Linked DNA regions of Homo sapiens. The protein of the gene in region 1 purifies or fractionates together with the protein of each later gene. This does not show direct contact. Each region holds a gene or a part of one and is shown on either strand. Other genes may lie near its edges.

Evidence for each region.
Region 2: the proteins of GIMAP2 (region 1) and FBP1 purify together in Homo sapiens (affinity purification with mass spectrometry; one large-scale study listed by BioGRID and IntAct). This does not show direct contact.

Annotation. Positions count from the first base shown.
Region 1 is NC_000007.14:150,691,222-150,694,268, reverse strand, and holds the end of GIMAP2 (GTPase IMAP family member 2), read right to left. Parts: intron 1,955-3,047; coding exon 969-1,954; 3' UTR 628-968; downstream 1-627. UniProt on the Homo sapiens protein: The heterodimer formed by GIMAP2 and GIMAP7 has GTPase activity. In contrast, GIMAP2 has no GTPase activity by itself.
Region 2 is NC_000009.12:94,615,397-94,619,225, reverse strand, and holds part of FBP1 (fructose-1,6-bisphosphatase 1), read left to right. Parts: intron 1-1,365; coding exon 1,366-1,458; intron 1,459-3,829. UniProt on the Homo sapiens protein: Catalyzes the hydrolysis of fructose 1,6-bisphosphate to fructose 6-phosphate in the presence of divalent cations, acting as a rate-limiting enzyme in gluconeogenesis. Plays a role in regulating glucose sensing and insulin secretion of pancreatic beta-cells.

The DNA.
Region 1 (3,047 bases):
TGATCTTGTTCATAGGGACATGATTTGGGTTCACTTTACTGAATTAATTCCATCTGAATACTCAAGTAAATTGGAGATGTTTTCCTCTAGAGAAGATTTGTGTTTGCTTCTACTGGCTGTCAATAATTCAACTAATTTTGGATAACTTTAGTCTCCTGGAAGGTCCTAAATTAATACAGAACACTCCAAATCAGCTCTCCAATTTTACTGACAGCCCAAGATTGATTTCTTCATCTTAGGATTGGTACCGGCATTTGTCTATCGGTCACCTCTGCCTTCCTTGTTCATGTATTCCTCATGGGCCTCAACTCCAGTTTGTGCTCCTCATTTAAAAAAAAATATTGTTTGCTCTACCTTTGGAATTTTCTTTATTTTTCTGGTGAACTCATCAATTATAAAAATTCTGTTTCTTTTAATAAATGTAGCCTCTATTTGCATCTAGCAAGATGATGCTTCAGAATATCCAGTCCAATTTGCTATCTTTTCTGACATTTGTCTTTACTTATGTTTCAGTGATAAATCTGTAGGACGTCAGGGCTAAAATCTGGCTAACATGAGTCATGTCCACTTACCATTTTCTAAGGAGAAAACTATAGAAGAGAATTAACAACATATGATCAAAGGAACTTTACAGTTTATGTAATATTATTTTATTGCCATTTTCATTATATTCAGTAGAAATAGTAGTACTAGAAAGAAGAAAATGAGATTTTAGGAACATAAAACTGGCTTTAGATATTTGAAAATGAGAGGAATTTTATGTTTACAGATTTCAAAAGGCTTTGATATTATATTTCAATGCAAACAGTAACTTATCGTATGATTTGGTTCATTAATAATTGGAGTGATGTTCAGATTTAAACATTTCATAGAATCTCAAATATGACTTCAGGTACCACATTTTACAGGGAAATTACTGTGATTCACCCACTAAATGATAGTGAGTAAATAATAACTGGGATCTGTAACTATAACCTAGGAGTCTTGCGTTCTAGTCTAATAACTGTTCTCAAAAATATCATTAACTTTTTGGGTATAATAAACAGCAAACTGCAGAATAAATTGCACATACTAAAGAGTAAGCAACAAAACAAATTGCACATGCTGTGCAGTATGCAAAGCCACAGAATTATCAATCTGAGAAACAACTGAATACAAAATAAAACACACAGTTGTGTTTTGATTAAGGCTCCTTTTAGGCAGTTTGCTTCAGCCAAGGCTGTGTAACTTCTTTGAGTTTCCATGTACTTTATAAGGCTCTGTTTGAATTCCTTTACTCTTTCATCTGATCCCACAGGTCCACATTTAGACCTCTGTATTAGGCTGTACAACCCATTGGTATAGTGATCACCATTTTTCTCCATCAACAGATCCTCAATACAGTCCATTAGTTCCTTCACTTGGTCATCCTGATTGCTCCCTTCAGCACGGTTATTAAAGGCACAGATTCGCCCACCACATGCTGCCACCAGCTTGCTTAGGGCTTTGTTATCTGAGTCGTGCATGTAATCCATCAGGGAGCCACCATTGAGGTCTTCCTTGTGGGTAAAGAGGACAATTGTGTGTCCCATGGCATCCTCTCCAAAGATCTCCTTCACCCTCTGTGCAGCCTGCTGGTCCTGTGAGGTATAGCGGCCCAGCTGAGTCACCAGGAGCAGCACATGGGGTCCTGGTGCAGACAGCAAGTAGCACCTCTGCACCTCTTTGTACAGAGCTTCACAGTGGTCCTTCCAAGAAAACATATCTGGTGTGTCAATAATGACAATCTCTCTATTTCCCCAGCTTCCCTGACTTTTGCTGCAAGTCTTAGTCAAGGTCTGGGAACCCAGCTTCGATTCAAATGCTTGCTTCCTGAGGATGCTGTTCCCTGCAGCACTTTTGCCAGTTCCTGTTTTGCCCACCAGGATGATTCTCAGCTCAGATCTGCTGGCACATTGGCCCTTTGCATGTGGTCCTGTGAGGAGCAAGTTTACTGTGTTATCGCTACACTGATCACGGCAGTGGAATATTTTTTTTTCCTTTCATTTCTTTTTCTTTTTTTTTTGAGACGGAGTCTCGCTCTGTCGCCCAGGCTGGAGTGCAATGGCGTGATCTCGGGTCACTGCAAGCTCCACCTCCCGGGTTCACGCCATTCTCCTGCCTCAGCCTCCCAGTAGCTGGGACTACAGATGCCCGCCACCGCATCCCGCTAATTTTTTTTTTTTTTGGTAGTTTTAGTAGAGACAGGGTTTCACCGTGGTATCGATCTCCTGACATCGTGATCCGCCCGCCTCGGCCTCCCAAAGTGCTGGGATTACTGGCGTGAGCCACCGGGCCCAGCCGGTAGTGGAATATTTTTAATGATAAGGAGGTATTCCCCGTTATGTAAAAAGATACTCGCACATCTATTTCACGTGAAATGAAAGCTAACTTGATTGCTGTAGGACTGCAGGGTATTGCCATGTTGGAGCCTAGGAAAACATACTTGGGGATGAGATGGATTTAGAGACATTTCTCATCATGTAATGGTTGCCTGAATCACTCAGTCCTGGATCTCTAGAAGAAAAGTTTTCTGGAGATCAGAGATGCGTAGGCAAGGCCATGGGTTCCATCTCAATGTGGGCCAAGTGACCTGGCTCTGTTTCAAGGCCAGAGGTTGCTACTTTGACCTTGGCTGGGCAGAGTGGGGTCATGACTACCAGGGAAGTGGCTGGACCAGCAAAATATTAGAATGAGCAGTGTAAAATTATTTTTATTAGTGAAGAAACAACTGATATCTTATAAAGGATATCATAATTTTGCTTAGAAAGCATGGCATAATTTTGGTATAAAATAGTCACAGAATATGGTAAACTTTCCTCTCTCCTTCCCCATTTCCCTTCAACGTGGGTAAGGTTCTGGGGAGAGGAGTGAATGGGGACAGAGGTATGAAGGAGCTTGAGGCTTTAGGGAAAAAATGTGTTTCAGACACATAAAAGGGGAAGGCATAGGAGCCATGGTGCCATTTCGCTGGTCCACATGGCAGTGATAAGAATGACTTGTCTAGGGCAGGTTCATGGAAGAACCAA
Region 2 (3,829 bases), on another chromosome or scaffold:
GCCAGACTTGAAGTTCATGTTTTTCTCAGCTGGGCCTTTCAAGGTCTTTGGCAGCTTTAGGCGTATGGCTTAGATTTGTTGTTTAATATTCTCCATCACTCACGCCGGACTTCTCTTGTCTATCATGGGCCTTCATGATAGGCAGCTTCCTGTGTTCCAGTTTCCAGTTCCTCCTGCATTAGTGAGGGTGGTCTGTGAAGAGCAAGAGGGCAGGGAATCATGTTAATCTGCTACAGACATTTAAAAACGACATTGTAAAGTGGCTAATTTGGAGATGGAAAACTCCCAGTGATGTGCTGGTAAACTGGGTCTCAAAGCAAACAAACAAGTCTCTGATATGTCCACTTGCCTCTGTCAATGGTGTGAATACTCTCCCATCGTTGATTTTAAGCTACCAATGTGATATCACTGAAGGCAGAGTTGGGAAGAGATGTGCACCGTTAGCTCCTGAGAGCCGATACCAGCCAGCTCCTGCACACCACTGAAAATCCCACTCAAAACAGGAATCTGCGGTATTCCCACTACCACTGAAAGTTATCTACTTTGGGAATTACGCTAGAAATTTGTTTTGTTTAGTTTTGTTTTTAGAGACAGGGCCTCATTCTGTCACCCAGACTGGAGTGCACAGTCATGGCTCACTGCAGCCTCGAACTCCTGGCTCAAGTGATACCTCCTGTCTCAGCCTCCTGAGTAGCTGGGACTACAGATGTGCAGCATCATGCCCAGCTAATTGAATTTTTTTTTTTTTTTTTTTTTTTTTTTTTTTTTTTACAGAAGGAGTCTCTCTATGCTGCCCAGGCTGGTCTCAAACTCCTGGGCTCAAGCAATCCTCCTGTCTTAGCCTCCCAAAGTGCTAGGATTAGGCATGAGCCACCGTGCCCAGCCAGGATATTTTTGAAAACTCTATGCACCCCAACCTCAAGGGGCATCTGTAAGACCTCCATGAGAAGTTTCTTATAGATCTCAACCCTAGCAAAGTCTCTGCTTCACCTAAGGAATTATTTTTTTCCTTACAAATAAAGGAAAATGAGTGACTAACCTTCTTTTTCCTTTGGCTGCCAGGAAACTCAATGCAAAATTATGATTTGATTATATCAACAATATAGGAAATCATGACTTATCTGTATTCCATTACCTTCATCTGCACCTCTTAAGTGGTATTTTCTCTGTTTAATGGTCTTGTGTGTATGTGTGTGTATCTGTGCATTCTGTATGCCATCTCATGCCTTCCATGACAGTACAAATAAATAAGACCCACATTTTTTGAACTTTCTTCTAAATTCCCATTCTTAGCCCCTAATGTATACTCCTTTAGTGTATCTTGCTATAACATTTTAAGGTTGTATTTCTTTTTTCTGTGCTCAGGGTAAATATGTGGTCTGTTTTGATCCCCTTGATGGATCTTCCAACATCGATTGCCTTGTGTCCGTTGGAACCATTTTTGGCATCTATAGAAAGGTAAAACGTGATATCTTAAGCACTTGGTTTGGGGACAGAAGTTAAGATTGAGCATCCAGTCCTATTTCACTGTGGCAGAGCAGCCGGAGTGGAGATCATGAAACTGTGAGACTGAAGTAGATTTGTATCTCAAGTTCTGAGCTTTTCAGCACTAATTGCATGACGAAGACCCACTAGATTGTTGAAAGAGAATATAGGGTAAAATATGGGTGGGAAGAGAAGGATATTTCACTCTTTTTACTATGTCTTACTTTTTATGATAGAAAATGAGATTTAAAAAAGAGGCAGTAGAGGGTAAGTATAGTGATGATACGATGTGAACTCAGAGTTGAGAGTGTAAGACAACAATAGAGACTATGTCAAAACTGTCCTTTAAGTCCCCTAGTCAATGGTCTATAAGCTATGAGCCCCGGGCTGAGTCCAGCCTGTGGCCTAATGTGTACAGCCTGTGAACAAAGAATAACCATTTTTACATTTTTAAATAGTTGAAAAAAACTAAAGAACAAAGTTTCGTGATCCATTTTAAGTTTTACTCTTCACGAATGAAGCTTTAATTGGCATTTGGTCACATTCATTTTTTCACATACTGCCTTTGGCTGATTCTCTGCTGCACTGTCAAAGTTTTGTAGTTATGATAGAGACTGTATGGCCCATAAAACTGAAAAATTTACTATCTGTCTGTCTGTAGAAACAGTTTACTGAGCTTTGCTCTAAGTCGTAGAAAGCACACAGCATAGGATGAGAATCCAGCCCTGCTCGGGTCTCCTAACACCTGACTCGGGCAGTCACCCCTCCTCCAGAGCTGCTTTTTCTGAGAGAGAGAGAGAGAGAGAAAGAGAGAGAGAGAGAGGAGAGAGAGGAGAGGGAGGAGGAGGAGGAGAGGGAGGAGAGGGAGAGGGAGAGGTGCTCAATTATACGAATAAGTGAAAAATAGAATGAAAACCCATCCACCCATCAGGAAACATGATAAAATCCAAGGTACATCCTCTTAGCTTTAGCTCTTGTTTTGTTTTATTTTTTCAAAGTATATATTTTAGGCCGGATGCGGTGGCTCACGCCTGTAATCCCAGCACTTTGGGAGGCCGAGGTGGGTGGATCACAAGGTCAGGAGATTGAGACTGCCTTGGCTAACACTGTGAAACCCCGTCTCTACTAAAAATACAAAAAAACAGCCAGGCATGGTGGTGGGCGCCTGTAGTCCCGGGAGGCTGAGGCAGGAGAATCGCTTGAACCTGGGAGGTGGAGGTTGCAGTGAGCCGAGATCACACCACTGCACTCCAGCCTGGGCAACAGAACAAGACTCCGTCTCAAAAAAAAAAGTATATATATATATAGTTTTAACAGCTTTGGGGGGTACAAATAGTTTTTGGTGACATGAATGAATTGTATAGTGGTGAAGTCTGAGATTTTAGTTTATACCTCACGAGAATAGTATATATTGTATCCAATATGCAGTTTTTTTATCCCTCATCCCCTCCCATCACCCCCTTCTAAGTCTCCAAAGTCTACCATACCATTCTATATTCAGCTCTTGTTTATTTCAGAACTGAAACCTCACAGGCTGGAATCGACTGAAGAGGTTGGTTCAGCTGAACTCTGTTCTAGGACACAAAGGCATTAACTTAAGAACTGAGACCCTTGGCCTAGCGAGATGGCTCACGCCTGTAATCCCAGCACTTTGGGAGGCCGAGGTGGGCGGATCATGAGGTCAGGAGATTGAGACCATCCTGGCTAACACGGTGAAACCCCGTCTCTACTAAAAATTACAAAAAATTAACTGGGCATGGTGGCGGGCGCCTGTAGTCCCAGGTACTCAGGAGGCTGAGGCAGGAGAATGGCATGAACCTGGGAGGTGGAGGTTGCAGTGAGCCAAGATCGCGCTACTGGACTCCAGTCCGGGTGACAGAGCTAGACTCCGTCTCAAAAAAAAAAAAAAAGAACTGAGACCCAAATTTGCACTTTATCTCTAAAAGTGACTTATTGTCTAGTATTATACATAATTTCCTTTCAAATATGTGAAAAGTAGAGCCCCCATGGCACAGTTATCTTTGGTCATTGGAACGTATTTTGCTTTTTATCTTGGGTAAGAGGCAGATCCACATCACAATCAGTTTGAGGAATAGAAGATTCAAATTCTCATACTAGAAAGGCAAAAAGGCAACAATTTATCCATTTTCCAAGTCATGCCAAGGAACATACCATTTCTGTTGTAGACATGGAAGAATGCAATTTTCCTTGCAAAATATCAAATCCACAGAATAGCAGGAGAGGTTTGTAGCAAAATTCTTCCTTGCAGAGGAAGACATCTGGCTAATGTGTTAACCACAACTAAAGCAGTGTTGATGTTTACTAAGCCCATTCTCCATCTCAG